2 separate regions of the Homo sapiens genome follow, and region 1 is linked to region 2. A link means that fine-mapping ties the variant in region 2 to the expression of a gene that starts in the linked region. Tissue or cell type: whole blood. Region 2 holds a variant in brackets; the other region holds the start of a gene. All regions are shown on one strand. Distances are from middle to middle.

What was found. PIP is the estimated chance that this variant, and not a neighbour inherited with it, causes the effect.
Region 1: it holds the start of ZNF282, and the variant in region 2 is fine-mapped to the expression of ZNF282 in whole blood (TOPMed, PIP 0.98).

The regions. Positions count from the first base shown.
Region 1 is chr7:149,191,170-149,199,272 of GRCh38, reverse strand. ZNF282 (zinc finger protein 282) reads right to left here and starts at 3,727. Exons shown (of 8, transcript NM_003575.4): 1 at 3,519-3,727; 2 at 521-940. The coding sequence starts at 3,683. RefSeq lists an enhancer at 2,660-2,709 and silencers at 3,150-3,509, 3,630-3,951, 3,770-4,059.
Region 2 is chr7:149,595,506-149,603,608 of GRCh38, reverse strand. It overlaps TRC-GCA20-1 (tRNA-Cys (anticodon GCA) 20-1), which reads right to left and starts at 5,654; the gene lies at 5,583-5,654. It also overlaps the pseudogene ZNF767P. RefSeq lists an enhancer at 2,536-2,695 and silencers at 2,804-3,004, 3,444-3,644. The variant G/A (reference allele first, on the strand shown) is at 3,368.

The DNA.
Region 1 (8,103 bases), 400 kb after region 2:
GCAGCATTGAGGATCCGGGAGGAAAGCAGGAGAGGGAACGGAGTAAGATACGGAGTGTGCATTCTGAACTTTAAGAAGGGCCCCCCTGAGATAAGTGACTACGACTTGAAAGCAACTCCAGGCAGCCTGGTTTGAGGTGCGACTCCAGCCACATTCCGGTGAGCATATACCAAGACAGCCAATGACACATGATCGCTGGTAGGTGTCAAGTGGGAAAACCAAGGAGTGAAGAGCTGCAAGAACTTGCAGACAACCAGACAACTCAGAGGGGTCTAGGAACAGCGAGAGCAAAGGCTCCCAGACAGAAATGCAGACTGTGGGGAATGAATGGAGTGAGCCTTGCTGGGGTAGAACGTCCAAGACCAGGTTGTTTCAGTGGAGACAGGCTTTAAGAAGACACTGAAATTGGATAACGGGGAGCCAGAGAAGTTTATGAGAAGGGCTGACAAAATGAAATCAAGAATTTTATGCACCTGTGCTGTTCCTCACCTCTATCCCTGCCCCAGGGACCACCACATACCTTGGGGGCCTCCCCCTTGCTGCCCGGGGGCAGCCGCAGGACCCAGAAGTTCCTGTTGCGCAGCAAGTTCTCCAAGTTCTCCAGCCGCCTCTGCAGCAGCCCGTACTCCTGCAGCAGGGTCCCCAGCACGGCCCACTTGCTCTCCATGTGGTTCCCAAATTCCACGGCCGTCTTTTCACAGTCGGCCAGCTTCTTCTCGGCTGTCCCCGTGCGCCCCTCCAGGTTCAGCAGCTGGCTGGCCTGGGCATCCACCTTCCTCTCCACAGCCTGAATGGCAGCCACCACAGTCCAGAGTGAGATCTCTGCTGTGGGCAACTGGGGCTCTCGCATCATGCGGTCGGGGAAGACAGGTGCCCTATCTGGAAAGGGTGGGAACTGAAAAGGCATTGGCCGCCGGGCGTCCATGTCCCATTCTTGAGCCTGTATGCAGAGGGAGAAAGCGACAACCCAGGATGAGACCTTGTGTGAGCCGGGGAAGTCAGCTGGGAACAGGGGTCAACTAATCAGATGCTACATGTCGTCTTTCTTCTGCCAGGCCCCCGTAACTCAGGATACACTAACACCCCCAGCAACAGCTACCCACTCACCCACCCACCCAACTCAACACTCTCCCATCTCCTGCCTAGGTGAGTCAGGCTGGTCACTGGTTCACCCACATTGACCCTTAGCAAGTTAAGGCTGCAACCCCTGCCTAAAATGTCACAGGCCACTTTCTTTGAATAGACCAACTGATTTCTTCAAGGGCTAGCCTTAATGACGAACTTTGTATTTGCCTAGTGTTTTATGTTTCCAAGAACTTTGATGTAAGTTAGCTGACGCTAATCTTCCCAGCAATCTCTCAGCAGGTTAGGGCAAGAATGATGATCTCTGCCTTAAAGATGATGAAACTGAAGCACAGGGAGGCAGCTGGTCACTCCGCAGCGCCTCCCTGCACTGCCAGCTGGGGCAGCTCTAGATGCTGCAGGTAACAAAAAACACATTCCTGGCCAGGTGCAGTGGCTCACACCTTCCCAGCACTTTGGGAGGCCAAGGCAGGCAGCTCACTTGAGGTCAGGAGTTCAAGACCAGCCTGGCCAACATGGCGAAACCCTGTCTCTACTAAAAACACAAAAATTAGCCGGGTGTGGTGGTGGGCTCCTGTAATCCCAGCTACTTGGGAGGCTGAGGCAGGAGAATCGCTTGAACCTGGGAAGCGGAGGTTGCAGTGAGCCGAGATGGTGCCACTGCACTCCAGCCTGGGCAACAGAGCAAGACTCCGTCTCGGAACAAACAAATAAACAACAAAAAAACCCACCACATTCCTACCAGGGCTGCAGTCAAGGAAAAGACCGGAGAGCCCAAGCTAGGGCAGAAAAGCAGCTTCCCCCCATATACAACTACTGTTTCATAAACATTTTCCAAATTGAAAATAGGTTCACTAAAAAAGGTCACTCATTAGAGGTGAAGAGGGGATGTCCCTCACACCCAAGAGGACCAAGAGAAAGAAAAACTCCTCTGGGACCCCTCCTTGCTTCCTGGGGAAGGGGTGCCCCATGGCCTGGGGACTCCCCCTTTTATCTTCCAGCACAGAGCCCTCACCCCAGAAGGGTAAACTAATTGGTGCAATTGAGAGCTGAGACCTATGGCTAAGGGGGGCTGGTTGAGGCTGGTGACAGTTCACTGGTCATCTGGGACCTGGTGTCAGACTCAGGGCTCACTGGACCACATGGGCTGGCAGCCGACTCTCCTTCACACCTGGGACAGGAAGAGGTGTCATTTTCTGTCCTCCCGATGGCTGCAGAAAAGGCCCTCAGGCTAGGAAAAGGGGAGGCCTGCTGCTTGGGGCGATCTGGGCAGACCAGCCCCACTCTCTGACTCAAGAGCAGCCCTGCTCCGGGGCAGACCTGCTCCGGGACACAGCAGAGTGGAGAGCAGGGCCCTAGGATCGCCAGGCCCTGTAATACCAGTAAGAGGTGCTGGTGTTTCCATCAAAAGCACCCATTCCTCCATCACAGAGGCTCCACTCCGCCCTAGCCCACAGAAGGGGACAGAGTCCACAGTAGAAGTTAAGAAAGTCCCGGGGCCCAGTTTAGTTTTCTCGGGTTTGAAGCCCTAACCCTGAAAATGATCAAACACAACACAGCAGCCCCTGGCTCCCTCGTTAGCACCTGGCTGAGAGCCGCGTGGTGAGCAGAGGGGCCCCTGAGCAGCCCAGCCCCAGGGTGGGCCCAGAGAGTCTTCCCTGGGCAAGCTTTCAGGCCTCTCTGAGGATCCACCTCCCCTGGTTTTATACCCAATTCTGGAGCACCGGTTCTGCCCACGGAGATCATCGATGGAGCCTGAAGAAATGCCTGGTGCTACTCTCACCCGTCAGAGACCCTGAGCTCTGGGACCAGGCAAGGGCTCAGGAGTCTTAAAAGCTGCCCAGGCCATTCCAACATGCGGCCAAGTTTGTCAACCGCAGGAAAGACCCCGAAGTCATCTCTCCATGGCCCCCTCCCTGGATCACACCCGGTGCAGGGGGAGAGTGAATTACTCATTACACTTGGTGAAAGGTGGTAATCAAACATTTAAAAAATATCCCCGTCAAATTGGCCACCGTGTAAACACGAACGAGGCATTCACTTCTGCGGCCGGGCGGAAGCACTGCCCGCGAAGCTCTCCGCCGGCCGGGCGCAAAGGGAGCCCCAAGCCGGGGCTCAGCCACAGGGTCAGAGCTCTGCCAGGTCCCGGAAAGGACGGTCCCGGCCCCCGCCCCGCGGGGCCTCCGCACTTGGGCCCGGCGACCGCTGCTCCGCGCCGCGCGGGCCAGGCCTGCCCTTCCGGGCCTGCGTCGGGCCCGCTCCGTCCTGCCCGCCGCGCAGCCCGGCCGTGCCCCGCCCGCCTCGGGCCTCGCCTGGGCGCGGAAGCTGGGAGGGCGCCGCAAGGCTACCGGAGGACGGCGCGGCCCGGTCCCGCGGCCCAGCCCGCGCCCCGCCCCCACGGCAGCGCGGCCATGGCGCCGGCGGGGTTCTCCCACCTGCATGGGCGGCATTCCCTCGGCCATTTCCCCGCGCAGCGCCGGCTCCTGGTGGCAGACCTCCTCCGGGGGCAGAGCCTGGGCCCAGCTCCAGCTCCCGCTGTCCAGCCCCAGGCCCTGGATGCCCAGCTGCTGAGGCTGCGGCCGTGTTGACACAAACTGCATCCTGGGAGTGCTGTTCCCCGCTCGGGTCGGCCAGGGAGAAGAAGAACGTTTTCCAGGCGCCTTCCCCCTCTCCGGGGCCGGACAGCTCCATCTACAGCCCGTAGGAGCAAACAGTCCCCTTCGGCGGCGCTCCCCGCCCCTTGGCAGCCCGCGCGCCAGCCAATGGCCTCGGAGCTCCTGCCCGCCTGCGGGGACCTACCGGGGCCACTCCCGGACTGGGGTCGCCACCGCCCCAAAACTGAGAGGCGGCGGCCTCGCCCAGGGGTCAGGCCCCCTCAATCTGGGATGGCCGACTTTAAAGGCCCAAACTATGCGAGGACCTGGACTGTGGGCTTGATTACTGTTAATTCTGCAAATGTATTGGGCATCCCGGGAGAAAATAGTGCCTGACCCTTGTGAAAATTTTGCAGGAGTAATTCTGTCTTCAGACACTTTCTTCTGGCCTTCTGCCTTCCCTCACTCCTTTGCAGACTTTACCTCCCACTCCCCTTCTTCCCAATCCAGATTTACCTGGACCCATCCCAGAGCTTTTGCACTGTTATGGATGATAGAGAAGTGATTCATGTTAAGGTGTCAAAAGAGGGCTGAGCTCTTTCTCCCAGGTAAGGTGCAGTGCATTTTAACAGTGGCCTCTTCAAACACCTTGAAATTGGGTTGGGCGTGGTGCCTCACACCTGTAATCTCAGCACTCTGAGAGGCTGAAGCAGGAGAACGACTTGAGCCCAGGAGTTCGAGACCAGACTGAGCAACATATTGACACCCCATCCCTATAAAAAATAAAAATTAGCCGAGCGCGGTGGCTCACATCTGTAATCCCAGCACATTGGGAGGCTGAGGCAGGCGGATCACCTGAGGTCAGGAGTTCGAGACCAGCCTGGCCAACATGGTGAAACCCCGTCTCTACTAAAAATACAAAAAGATTAGCCGGGCGTGGTGGCGTGGGCCTATAATCCTAGCTACTCGGGAGGCTGAGGCAGGAGAATCGCTTCAACCTCCGAAGCGGAGGTTGCAGTGAGCCAAGATCGCGCCAGTGCGCTCCAGCCTGGGCAACAGAGCGAGACTCCATCTCAAAAAATAATAATAAGGCCGGGCGCCGTGGCTCACGCCTGTAATCCCAGCACTTTGGGAGGCCAAGACGGGCGGATCACGAGGTCAGGAGATCGAGACCATCCTGGCTAACACGGTGAAACCCCGTCTCTACTAAAAATACAAAAAAATTAGCCGGGTGTGGTGGCGGCGCCTGTAGTCCCAGCTACTCGGGAGGCTGAGGCAGGAGAATGGCGTGAACCCGGGAGGCGGAGCTTGCAGTGAGCCGAGATCGCGCCACTGCACTCTAGCCTGGGCAACAGAGCAAGACTCCGTCTCAAAAAAAAATAATAATAATAATAATAAAATAAAAAATAAAAATTACCCGGGCATGATGGCTAATGCCTGTACTCCTAGTTACTCAGGAGGCTAAGGCTGTAGGATTGCTTGAACTCAGGAGTTGGAGGTTGCAGTGAGCTGTGATTGTGCCGTTGTGCTCCAGCTTGGGCGGCATAGCAAAGATCCTGTGTCAAATAAATAAATAAATAAACCTTTAAATCGGGCAGTCATGGTGGCTCACACCTGTAATCCCAACACTTTGGAGGCCAAGGCTGAGGCCAGGAGTTCAAGACCAGCCTGGGTGACACAGCGAGATCCCTTCTCTACAAATAAAACCCTTTAAAGGCAGGTCAGTGTCACTTTGAAACATCAGGCCAGGTCAGAGGAGGAGCCAGGGAGAGGCCAGTATAAGCTGATGAAGATGGAGGAGGGGAAAATTCAGTCATTCCAAATGTATTTATTGAACACCTACTGTGTGCCAGGTACTGTTTAGGAAGAGGGTGAGCTTTGCAGTTGCATACACCTGAGTTTAAATCCCAAAATCACCACTCACTAGCTATGACTTTGAGCAACTTATTTAACTTCTCTGAGCCTCATTCTCTTCATATATAAATGAAGAAAATAATGGCAACTCTATTTTAATGTTGTAAAATTAAATGAGAATTGTGCCTGGCACATAGCGAGCATTCTGCAAAGATAGTTACCCCCAAAAGGTGTTTTTGTAATTATTCTCAAAATAGTATTTACTTTGTTTTCCTAAAGGACCAGTCCCTGTCTTGTTAAGGAAGAGATCTCTGAGGCTCATCACCTTGTGTGGAAGCAGACCTGCTAGTACCTTTAAGTTCCACTGCACTTCATAAAATAAAGGACATTATTGGCCTACGTGAGACATGTGCTTAGAAGGCCATATTCAGAAGAACAGTTACCAAGTACTTTCTCTGCTAGGCACACTTCTAGGATACAGAAATGAGTATTCACAGACTTAAGATTATCCTCAAGGAGCTTATAGGCCAGTAAAGTCCATGCTCCCAGAAGTCAGTGATTTCCTTCCCTGCTTCCTGGCCCTGATTGTAAACATCACGTCCACTTTTATTAGAGGAACCAGGCAAGTTAAGTCTGAAAAGCTCTAGGCAAATTCATTTCCACCAGCGAGCCACATTTCAGAACACGTCTTCTGCACTGTAGATTATCAACTATCTTTTCTCTTTCCTAGAGGTGATAAAGGAAGGACTAGGTTAGTCCCAAACATTTATGCTATCTTTTCTGTATAAAGCCTTTAAAATGACTTCCCTTCCTAAGCACTTAACTAGTTATAACGATGTCCTTTGTTACATAGTAAGACATCGCTGTAGTGTGTCTACTTCACATTTCTCCTTCACAGCGGGTGGATTTTCATGCAGCCATCAACACTATCACCCTTTGTGACCAGAGTAGTTGCTCAGAGCTAGAGGTCCCATTCATTGTTAAGATGATCCCAGTACTTTGGGAAGCCGAGGCGGGCAAATCATGAGGTCAAGAGTTTGAGACCAGCCTGGCCAATATGGTGAAACCCCATCTCTACTAAAAATACAAAACTTAGCCAGGCATGGTGGTGTGCGCCTGTAGTCCCAGCTACTCTGGAGGCTGAGGCAGAAGAGTCGCTTGAGCCCAGGAGGTGGAAGTTGCAGTGAACCGAGATCCTTCCACTGTACTCCAGCCTGGCGACAGAGCAAGACTCGGTCTCAAAAAAAAAAAAAAAGAGATATATGAGCAAAGCTACTCAACTCAAACAATTTAAATGCACAGGCTTCATTGTACTTGCAATATTTTATTTTATTTATTTTTGAGACAGAGTCTCACTCTGTCACCCAGGATGGAATGCAGTGGCTCAATCTCGGCTCACTGCAACCTCCGTCTCCCAAGTTCAAACAATTCTCCTGCCTCAGCCTCCCGAGTAGCTGGGATTACAGGCGCTTGCCACCATGCCCAGCTAATTTTTGTATTTTTAGTAGAGGTGGGGTTTCACCATGTTGGCCAGGCTGGTCTCAAACTCTTGACCTCACATGATCCACCCGCCTTGGCCTCCCCAAGTGCTGGGATTACAAGCATGAGCCACCGCACCTGGCCACTAACATTATTTTATAACCACCAAGCCTAGCAACCACAGGCCATAAAAGGCCGTAGTGGATACCAGCAGGAAGGTAGTGAAGGGAGTGATTAAGGAGAACTTCCCAGAAGGAAAACAAGCAGGGAATGAGGAGGAAGCTGCTGTAGCTGCACAGGCTGTGGGCCCCGTTATAGGTCCTCCCATGATCAACGGACTGATGAGACAGAGAGATCCCCAAGAGTGGGAGAGACCCTGCACTGGGAGAAGTGTTCAGTCATAAGACTGGTTTCCGGAAATCACTGGGTGACTAGGAGACAGTTATCTAACGTACCGAGGAGCAGAATGAGCAACTGGATAAAGTGGATTATAAATGCCATGTATCACGGTTAACACACGTTTCTTGTTAGGGAAGGACCCAGGCCTGGCCCCTCAGTCTCTCAGGTGGGAACTGACTGCTTTTCATCCCCTCCCCTAGGAATTTTATTGTTACTGCTCTGGACAGGATATTTGAAGTGATAGATGCTGAACTAAAGAATACAGGAGAGGCCGGGCGCGGTGGCTCACGCCTGTAATCCCAGCACTTTGGGAGGCCGAGGTGCGCAGATCACGAGGTCAGGAGATCGAGACCATCCTGGCTAACACGGTGAAACCCCATCTCTACTAAAAATGCAAAAAAATTAGCCGGGCGTGGTGGCGGGCGCCTGTAGTCTCAGCTACTCGGGAGGCTGAGGCAGGAGAATGGCGTGAACCCGGGAGGCGGAGCTTGCAGTGAGCCGAGATCGCACCACTGCACTCCAGCCTGGCGACAGAGTGAGACTCCATCTCAAAAAAAAAAAAAAAAAAAAAAAAAAAAAAGGTATACTTCCGTTTGCGGCGCGGCTTCTTTCTTTCCGTGCCGATAGCGCTCACGCAAGCATGGTTAACGTCCCTAAAACCCGACGGACTTTCTGTAAGAAGTGTGGCAAGCAC
Region 2 (8,103 bases):
TGTGCGGTCACACCCAGATGACCAGTCACCTGTGTGTTGCCACTTCACAATGGAAGCTCCTAGGAGCTGCCAGGTCTACCTCAGTGAAAACTCATTGACCTTGTGCATAGCAAGAGGCAGTCCCCGCTCCTCAGATAACCCCCGTGCCTGTGTCTTCCCTGCCTTGAGTCCTTAGTTATGGGCAGCAGGCTGGAAAAGCACTGCCAGCAGCCACTAGAATGGCCTTGAGAGTCATCCTCCAGTAACTGTTTATGGTGGGCACATACAAGAGAAACTTTGTGTGACTGAGGTGTCTGTTCTAAAACACTTAATGACAGAGTTGGGCCTGGCTCTCCTGGTCCAGTGTTCCAACACAACTACAATCTAGGACAGAAGGTGATTCTTCCAGCTTTCACTTCTTCAATTAATATTAATGGAGAATGATAGAGAAGGAGCGACTCCAAGAAATAGTGAGAAGGCGGTAGCTGAGTAGATTTTGGAATCCCCGAAAGCCTTAAGAGGGCCAGCGTTAACATAGTTTCAAGGACCAGAATATGTTGCTAGACAACAACCCCACTTGATTCATTTTTGTCTTTAAGTAACAGGGTGTTTTCCTGTCATCCAGAGTGGAGTGCAGTGAAACAATTATAGCTCACTTCAGCTTCCCAAGTAGGTGGGACCACAGGTGTGTACCATCATACCCAGCTAATGTATTTTATTTTTTGTAGAGGTGAAGTCTCACTATGTTGCCCAGGCTGGTCTTAAACTCCTGGTCTCAAGCGATCCTCCTGCCTTGACCTCCCAAAGTGCTGGGATGAGAGACATGAGCCACTGTGTCCAGCCTCCCACGTGACCTTCCTGATGGCAGGCAGAACCCTGTCCTTTCTAGAAGGAAGACTTGGAGGAACACTTGGGTTAACTCCTTTTCACCTCCTCAGCTGTGCCAAGGCCCCGCCTCTGCTCTTGTCATAGGAGCTGGTAAACTGTCTCTTCTTCAAACTGCCTTTCTTTCCTGCTGGAATTTTCTCCTTTACCCACAGGCCTTTGCCTTGTAGCCCTGGGCACCTTCTCAGAAGGCAGCCAGCAGCCAGCCACTCCTCTCCGCTCCTGGCCTGACAGCCTCGGGAAACACTGACTTCCGCAGTGATTTATATGATAACGTTAAAATCCTCTGGGTTTCCCTTTTCGGCAGTAGGGTGGACTGCCAAGGAAGATGCGGAGGATTGATGAGCCTGCAAGAGCACAGAACTCCCCACTGGCAGGGCCTGGGCAGCAGCCTGGCAGGCAGATCACCTGAGGTCGGGAGTTTGAGACCGGCCCGAGCAACATGGAGAAACCCCATCTCTACTGAAAATACAAAATTAGCCGGGCCTGGTGACTCTTGCCTGTAATCCCAGCTACTCGGGAGGCTGAGGCAGGAGAATTGCTTAAACCCGTGAGGCGGAGGTTGCGGTGAGCCAAGATCGCGCCATCACACTCCAGCCTGGGCAACAAGAGCGAAGTCCAGGAAGTCGCAGAAGACCCTGGACATCGCTGGATTCTGGAGGCCCGGATGTCAGTAGTACAATGATGAATGGGCATTTCCAAGAAGAAGTCTTAGGCCCCACCCATGGTGAGGAATCAGGAAGGAGACAGTCTTGCACTAAGGCAGGATACGAGAAGGGCTAAGCAGTGGCCGGGCGCAGTGGCTCATTCCTGTAATCCCAGCACTTTGGGTGGCTGAGGTGGGCAGATCACCAGGTCAGGAGTTGGAGACCAGCCTGGCCAATGTGGTGAAACCCCGTCTCTACTAAAAATACAAAAATTAGCCGGGTGTGGTGGCGGGCACCTATAATCTCAGCTACTCGGGAGGCTGAGGCAGGAGAATCGCTTAAAATAGGAACGTGGAGGTTGCAGTGAGTCCAGATCGCGCAGCTGCTCTCCAGCCTGGGCAACAAATCGAGATTCCATCTCAAAAAAAAAAAAAAAAGAGCGTATGTTTCATGGATTGTTGTGTAGATTGAATGAGTTAATCTGCGTAAAGCACATAAAACAGGACTGGCAGGTAGTAAATTCTATATACCGTTTGCTGAACAGATAAAAAGCTCACAGAGAAATCAGCTAACATTCATGAGAGCCAATAAACACAAGTAAGAGAATAAGAACCCACATGGCAGGAGAAGGTATCTGTTGCACATAAGTGATGAAGGGTTTATTCCCAAAATATATAAAGTATTGCACAAGACAATTAAAAAATGGACAACTTAGTAGAAAAATGAAGAAGAGACTTGAGCAGTCACTTCACAGAAGAGGACATCCAAGCGACCAATAAGCCTATGAAAAGATGCTCAAACCTCATGAGTCTAGAAAGGTGCAAATTAGGCCGGGCGCGGTGGCTCACACCTGTAATCCCAGCACTTGGGGAGGCCGAGGCGGCCGGATCACCTGAGGTCGGGAGTTCAAGACCAGCCTGACCAACATGGAGAAACCCCATCTCTACTAAAAATACAAAATTAGCCAGGCTTGGTGGCGCATGCCTGTAATCCCAGCCACTCAGGAAGCTGAGGTAGGAGCATTGCTTGAACCCGGGAAGCGGAGGTTGTGGCGAGCCAAGATCGTGCCACTGTACTCCAGCCTGGGCAACGAGAGCGAAACTCCATCTCAAAACGAAAAGAAAAGAAAGGTGCAAGTTAAACCGCAGTGAACTATTGCTAGAATTGTTGCTAGGTTGGTTAAAATGAAAGAGACTGATGTTACTCAGTGATGGTACGTGGAGCCATAGTAACTCTCATCCCCTGCTAGTGGTAGTGTGATTTGCTGGAACCACTTTAGAAAACCGTCCGACCTTACTGGCTAAAGCCAAAAATAGAAACACCCACTTCCTCAACAATTGTATTCCTAGATACGGAGAGTAGAGTGTGTCTGTGTACATGCAAGATTCTTGTTCATAGCAGCATTCCTTTCAGTCTTCTATATCTTGATTTAGGAGGTGGGTACATTTGTGTGTATGTGTACAAATTAATTGAGCTGTACGTTAAAGATTTCTATACCTTATTGTTAGTTATATTTCAGTTAAAAGTAAATAAAAAGGAAGATGTTGATACTTTTTTTCATTTCTGGAATGTCTTAGTTGATTCATTTAAAAAATATATTTGGTGATTTTTTTAGAGTCTTTTGCTCCTCAATTCAGTTTCCATTTCCCTTTAAGAGCATATTTGTCTTTCTTTCATTTTTCAATTTAAAGCTTTCACGACCCCACCGTTAAATAATATTTCTTTTTATATTTCAGGTAGACAGCTAGTGACATATTAAGAAGGTAGAATATTTATCCTCGCTTCCAAGAATTTTTTTTGAATCACGAAGGTGTGTTGGATTTGATTGGATGTTTTTCTTCATCTATTTGAATGAC[G/A]TGATTTTTCTCCTTTAATCTGTTGTCTTAGTTTAGATTTCTTTAGAAAGAGACTCTGAAACTAAAATGTAAGAGCAGGTAGTTTATTTGGAAGATAAGTTCAGGAAACACCAGTAGGGAGTGGGAAGTCAGACAGAGAAAGCAAAGAAGCCAATAAAAGGTGGTGTCAATCTAAATAACAGGCAGAATCTCTCTGAAAAGTAATGTAACTTAATTAGGGAACGAGCATTGGCAGTGGTTATACAGGTGTCAGAGTAAACTATGTTTGAGGAAGTTGTGGTAAGGGAAAGTTTTGTGTTTTTTTTTGTTTGGTTGGTTTTTTTTTTTTTTTTTTTTTTTTTGCTTGGGGGACGGAGTTTTGCTCTTGTTGCCCTGGCTGGAGTGCAATGGCAAGATCTCGGCTTACTGCAACCTCTGCCTCCTGGGTTCAAGCGATTCTCCTGCCTCAAGAAGCAGGGTAAAAGACACTAGTGGAAAACGCTGACTCTGCCTCACCACACCCCTTGAGAGCCTCAGTGAGTGGAGTTTGTGAACATTCGTAGAGGCAGCAGGATGGAAATCTCTGGAGGCCTTAGCATTGGACGCACATTGCCATGGTGTTTGACATTCCTGAGGACAGAAGGAGAGGGCGGTGAGGAAAATAAGATTGTTAGCCTGGTTCTAAAAGTGTCCACTGTTTGTGGAGTCCCATATGTCAGAGAAGACATGAATGGTGAGAGGAGAGAGTGGTGGAAGGAGATGGTTTTGAGAGAGGAGAAGCGTGGAGGGATAGTGGAGGAGCTGTTGTTTGGGGGCAACGTGGAGAATGAGACTGAGAAGGTGACCCTACCCTCTGTGTGGCCTATGCCAGTCTAAGTTGTATGTGGATAAAGTTATCTACCAACATTGAACATAAAGAATGGAGAACCTGGATCTGAGCGAGGGACCTCTTGCTCTACAGTCAAAAGCTCTAGCCCAGAGCTTTACCCCCATGGCACACTGAGGTTACCTAGTTAGTACCTTTTATCAGTATGGGAACACTCAGCTTTGTAAAATTAAATGATGGCTTCCCTCCAGGACTGACTTTCTGGAAGCTGCCAGACCTGATTCACAGCTAGACACCTTCCCTCAGCTCTGCAGTTCACCAGGTCTGTCTCTGGGTGGAGCCATGAGCAGGAGAAAAGGATGGAGGCTGTCTGCAGAACTCAGAGCCATTTCCCATTGTTTTTTGGGGTTAACCCAAGAGCTGGCCACTGGTGTCCAAAACAGTCCACAGACTAACCCAAGCTCCCAGCCCGGCTCCCTTTTTCCTGCAGTGAAGACAGAGTGGACAAATATGATAACTGATGATAAACTGCCTAGCATGATATTAGCACATAGTAGGGCATAGTAAGCATTAAAAAAATAACACCAGTTCCTGTTCTTGTCTTTTGGCAAACTCCAAACCAGTATCTGTAATGTCTCCTAAATGACCTCCTTAGACAAAGGACCTCACTGGTTCTTCATTGCAGCACACAGGACTCCCTGTGGCCCACAGAACAAAGTTGGAATTCCCAATCATCTCATACGAACAGACTCTTGAGTCTAATCCCCCACCTCCAAGCCTTGGGCCACAGTCACAGAGTGGGCTGTAATTCACGTGCAGCCGCAGAGCTACAGGAGTTTGGTCGTAGGGGCAGCACTGCAGAGCCTCTGTCTCCCTTGTTAGAGTAGCTGAGCCAGGCTTTTGGCCTATAAGGTTGAAGCAAGGGTGTGAGTGAGCCCTGCGTGGGAGCAATTCTCCAGGGGAAACATCTGCCCTCCATGGGAATGCTGTGTGCTGTGATGTGTCTCCCCAGGTCTGGCCACCACTCCAGTGCACCAAACTGCTGCTGTGGGAAGGAGCCAGGAGAGTGATAACTTGGGGTACCATTCCCCATCTGTTTCTGGGGAGCCTGCTGCAGTACTACTCTCTGGTCTGCCCTGGAAAAACCCAGAAGCATACTGCATCACAGCTTGAGAAATTACATCTATAGGGGGAGCAGGGAGCTAGATACCAAGAATACCAAGAATATGAGGGATACCCGTGGAACTGGTGCTGGGAGAAGTTATCCAGCCAGGTTGCAGCTGGGTAGGCCTGAGCTGTAGCTTCCAGTTCCAGGGAAAATCATAGGTGGAATGGATGAAAAGAAACTGGAATGTGACCAACAGCTTCTGTGAAGAATATAACAGCTTGTATGAATAGAAAAAGTGCAGTAGGGGGCACCCAGATTTGAACTGGGGACCTCTTGATCTGCAGTCAAATGCTCTACCCCTGAGCTATACGCCCTGCTTGTCATAAGTGTCTAATAACCACTTTTCATGTTGGTAATCGCACCCAGGAGTCCTACAGCACATTGAAAGTTCCTGCTTACTTTTAGAGAGTAAGACCAGCAACTGATTTTACCACAAACTCACCCCAGAAAAGTCCATCCCCAGTTGCCAAACCCTGGCCCCTGCTCACATGCCTGCACAATCTCCCCGCTTTCCCTCAGTCCGTGGTGACAGGAGCAGCTGAGAGGAGTGTTTCCGTTTACTGCTGGAACAGCCTTTAGGTCTCCATGTTTGATGTCTTCTTGTTTACACTACAAAATAGCAGTTTGGAGACACAAATTGAGACACATGCAGTACTGACATATATAGATATCTCTCAGTCTGGGATCTTTGCATTAAATCCAGTTCATGAAAGACTTGGTGAAGTTGGGGGAGTTCCTAGGCCCTGACATGGATCAGAGAGTAGTCCTGGGAAGCATCATGGAGACAACATAGCATGAGGACCACACAGCTCCTCCAGGTTTTGGCCAGAAAACTCCGCTGCTAGTGTGGAAAGCTCTACCCTGAACTACACCTCCATTCCCAGTGCATGGCTGTTTTTAACGTTACATATATTTTTATAATTTATCAGAAGTTTGGACTGGTTGGAGCCCACCACAGCGCCACAAAGCCTCCGTAGCCAGACTGCCTTTCTAGATTCCTCCTCTCTGGGCAGGGTATCTCTGAAAGAAAGGCAGTAGCCTCATTCAGGGCCTTGTAGATAAAACTCCCATATCCCTGGGACAGAGCACCTGGGGGAAAGGGGTGGCTGTGGGCACAGCTTCATCAGACTTAAACTTTTCTGCCTGCCGGCTCTGAAGAGAGCAGTGGATCTCCCAGCACAGTGCTCAAGCTCTGCTAAGGGACAGACTGCCTCCTCAAGTGGGTTCCTGACCCCCGTGCCTCCTGATGGGGAGACACCTCCCAGCAGGGATCAACAGACACCTCATGTAGGAGAGCGCTGGCTGGCATCTGGCGTGTGCCCCTCTGAGACGAAGCTTCCAGAGGAAGGAGCAGTCAGCAGTCTTTGCTGTTCTGCAGCCTCTGCTGGTGATACCCAGGAAAACAGTGTCTGGAGTGGACCACCAGCAAACTCTTAGCAGACCTGCAGAAGAGGGGCCTGACTGTTAGAAGGAAAACTAACAAACAGAAAGCAATAGCATCAAATAAACGAAAAGGACGACCACACAAAAACCCCATCTGAAGGTTACCAACATCAAAGACCAAAGGCATTTCTCTATTTCTCTTTCTTTCCCTTCTTTCACTCCCTCCCTCCTTCCCTTCTTCCTTCTCTTTTTTTTCTTTTGAGACAAGGTGTTGCTCTGTCACGCAGGCTGAAATGCAGTGGCATGATCATAGCTCACTACAGCCTCAAGCCATCCCACCTTAGCCTGCTCTATAGCTGGGACTCCAGGTACATGCCATGACATTTCACAGGACATATCCACAGAAAATTGTGGCATTAGCATGATTTGAGGGTGAGATTTTTGGCCCTCTTATATCAAAAGGCCACCTCTCAGGCACTTGCTCAGACCAGTTGAAGAGTCAGTTGTCTAAACCAGTTTTAGCTGGACAGGAGCTGGCCCAAGTGCCTGAAAAACAACTGAAGTGACCATCACCATGTGACCTACGTAAGTTCTATAAAGCCTCCCATGAAAGTTAAGTTTCTGCATTGAGCATTGAGGCTTTCAGGTACGGTGGCCTTCAGCTTCGTGGAAATAGGGAAATAATAACAACAAAAAGCAAGCAGGGCAGTTGGGCCTGATCAGATTAATCCCTCCATTTGAAGGCAAGCAGGAAACAACCGGCCTTGGGGGCTCAGGGGTTACAAGGCACAAGTGAACCACTTGGAAGTGGCCCTGGATCTTCACTTATTTTTGCATCTGTGACCTTCACCATGAGACTTTGCAGATCTTCCCACTAGAGGTGGAACATGCTTCCCTGCTCTTGAGTTAGGGCTTGCTTCTCTGACTTGATTTGATCAATGAGATGTTAGCACATGTGATGCAAACAGAGGCTTGAAAGCTGCTTGCATAGTTGGGCCTCCCCCTTTGCATTTCTGCTGTCACCACCAGAAGAGTGTCCCCTTGCTAGCTGCTACTCCTCCAGCTGGGATTGTGGAAGGAACACACATGGAGCAAACTTGAGCCCGGCTCAGACAGAAACCAAGCACAGATGGACCCACAGCTTGAAGCAGACCCAGCCTACATCAGCTGATTGGCATCCATGCTGCTGACCTATCAGCACGAGACATGCTTATGGTTTCATACAGCCTAATTTTGGGATGATTTGTTGTGACACATTGTTGTGGAAATAGCTGACTAATACAGCCTTGATTCTTACACCTGCCTCTCCCCCAACCCTCATCCCCTATTCCCATCAGGTACTGAGTAAGGGAATGGGAGGAGATAGTTGAAGGAGTTCAG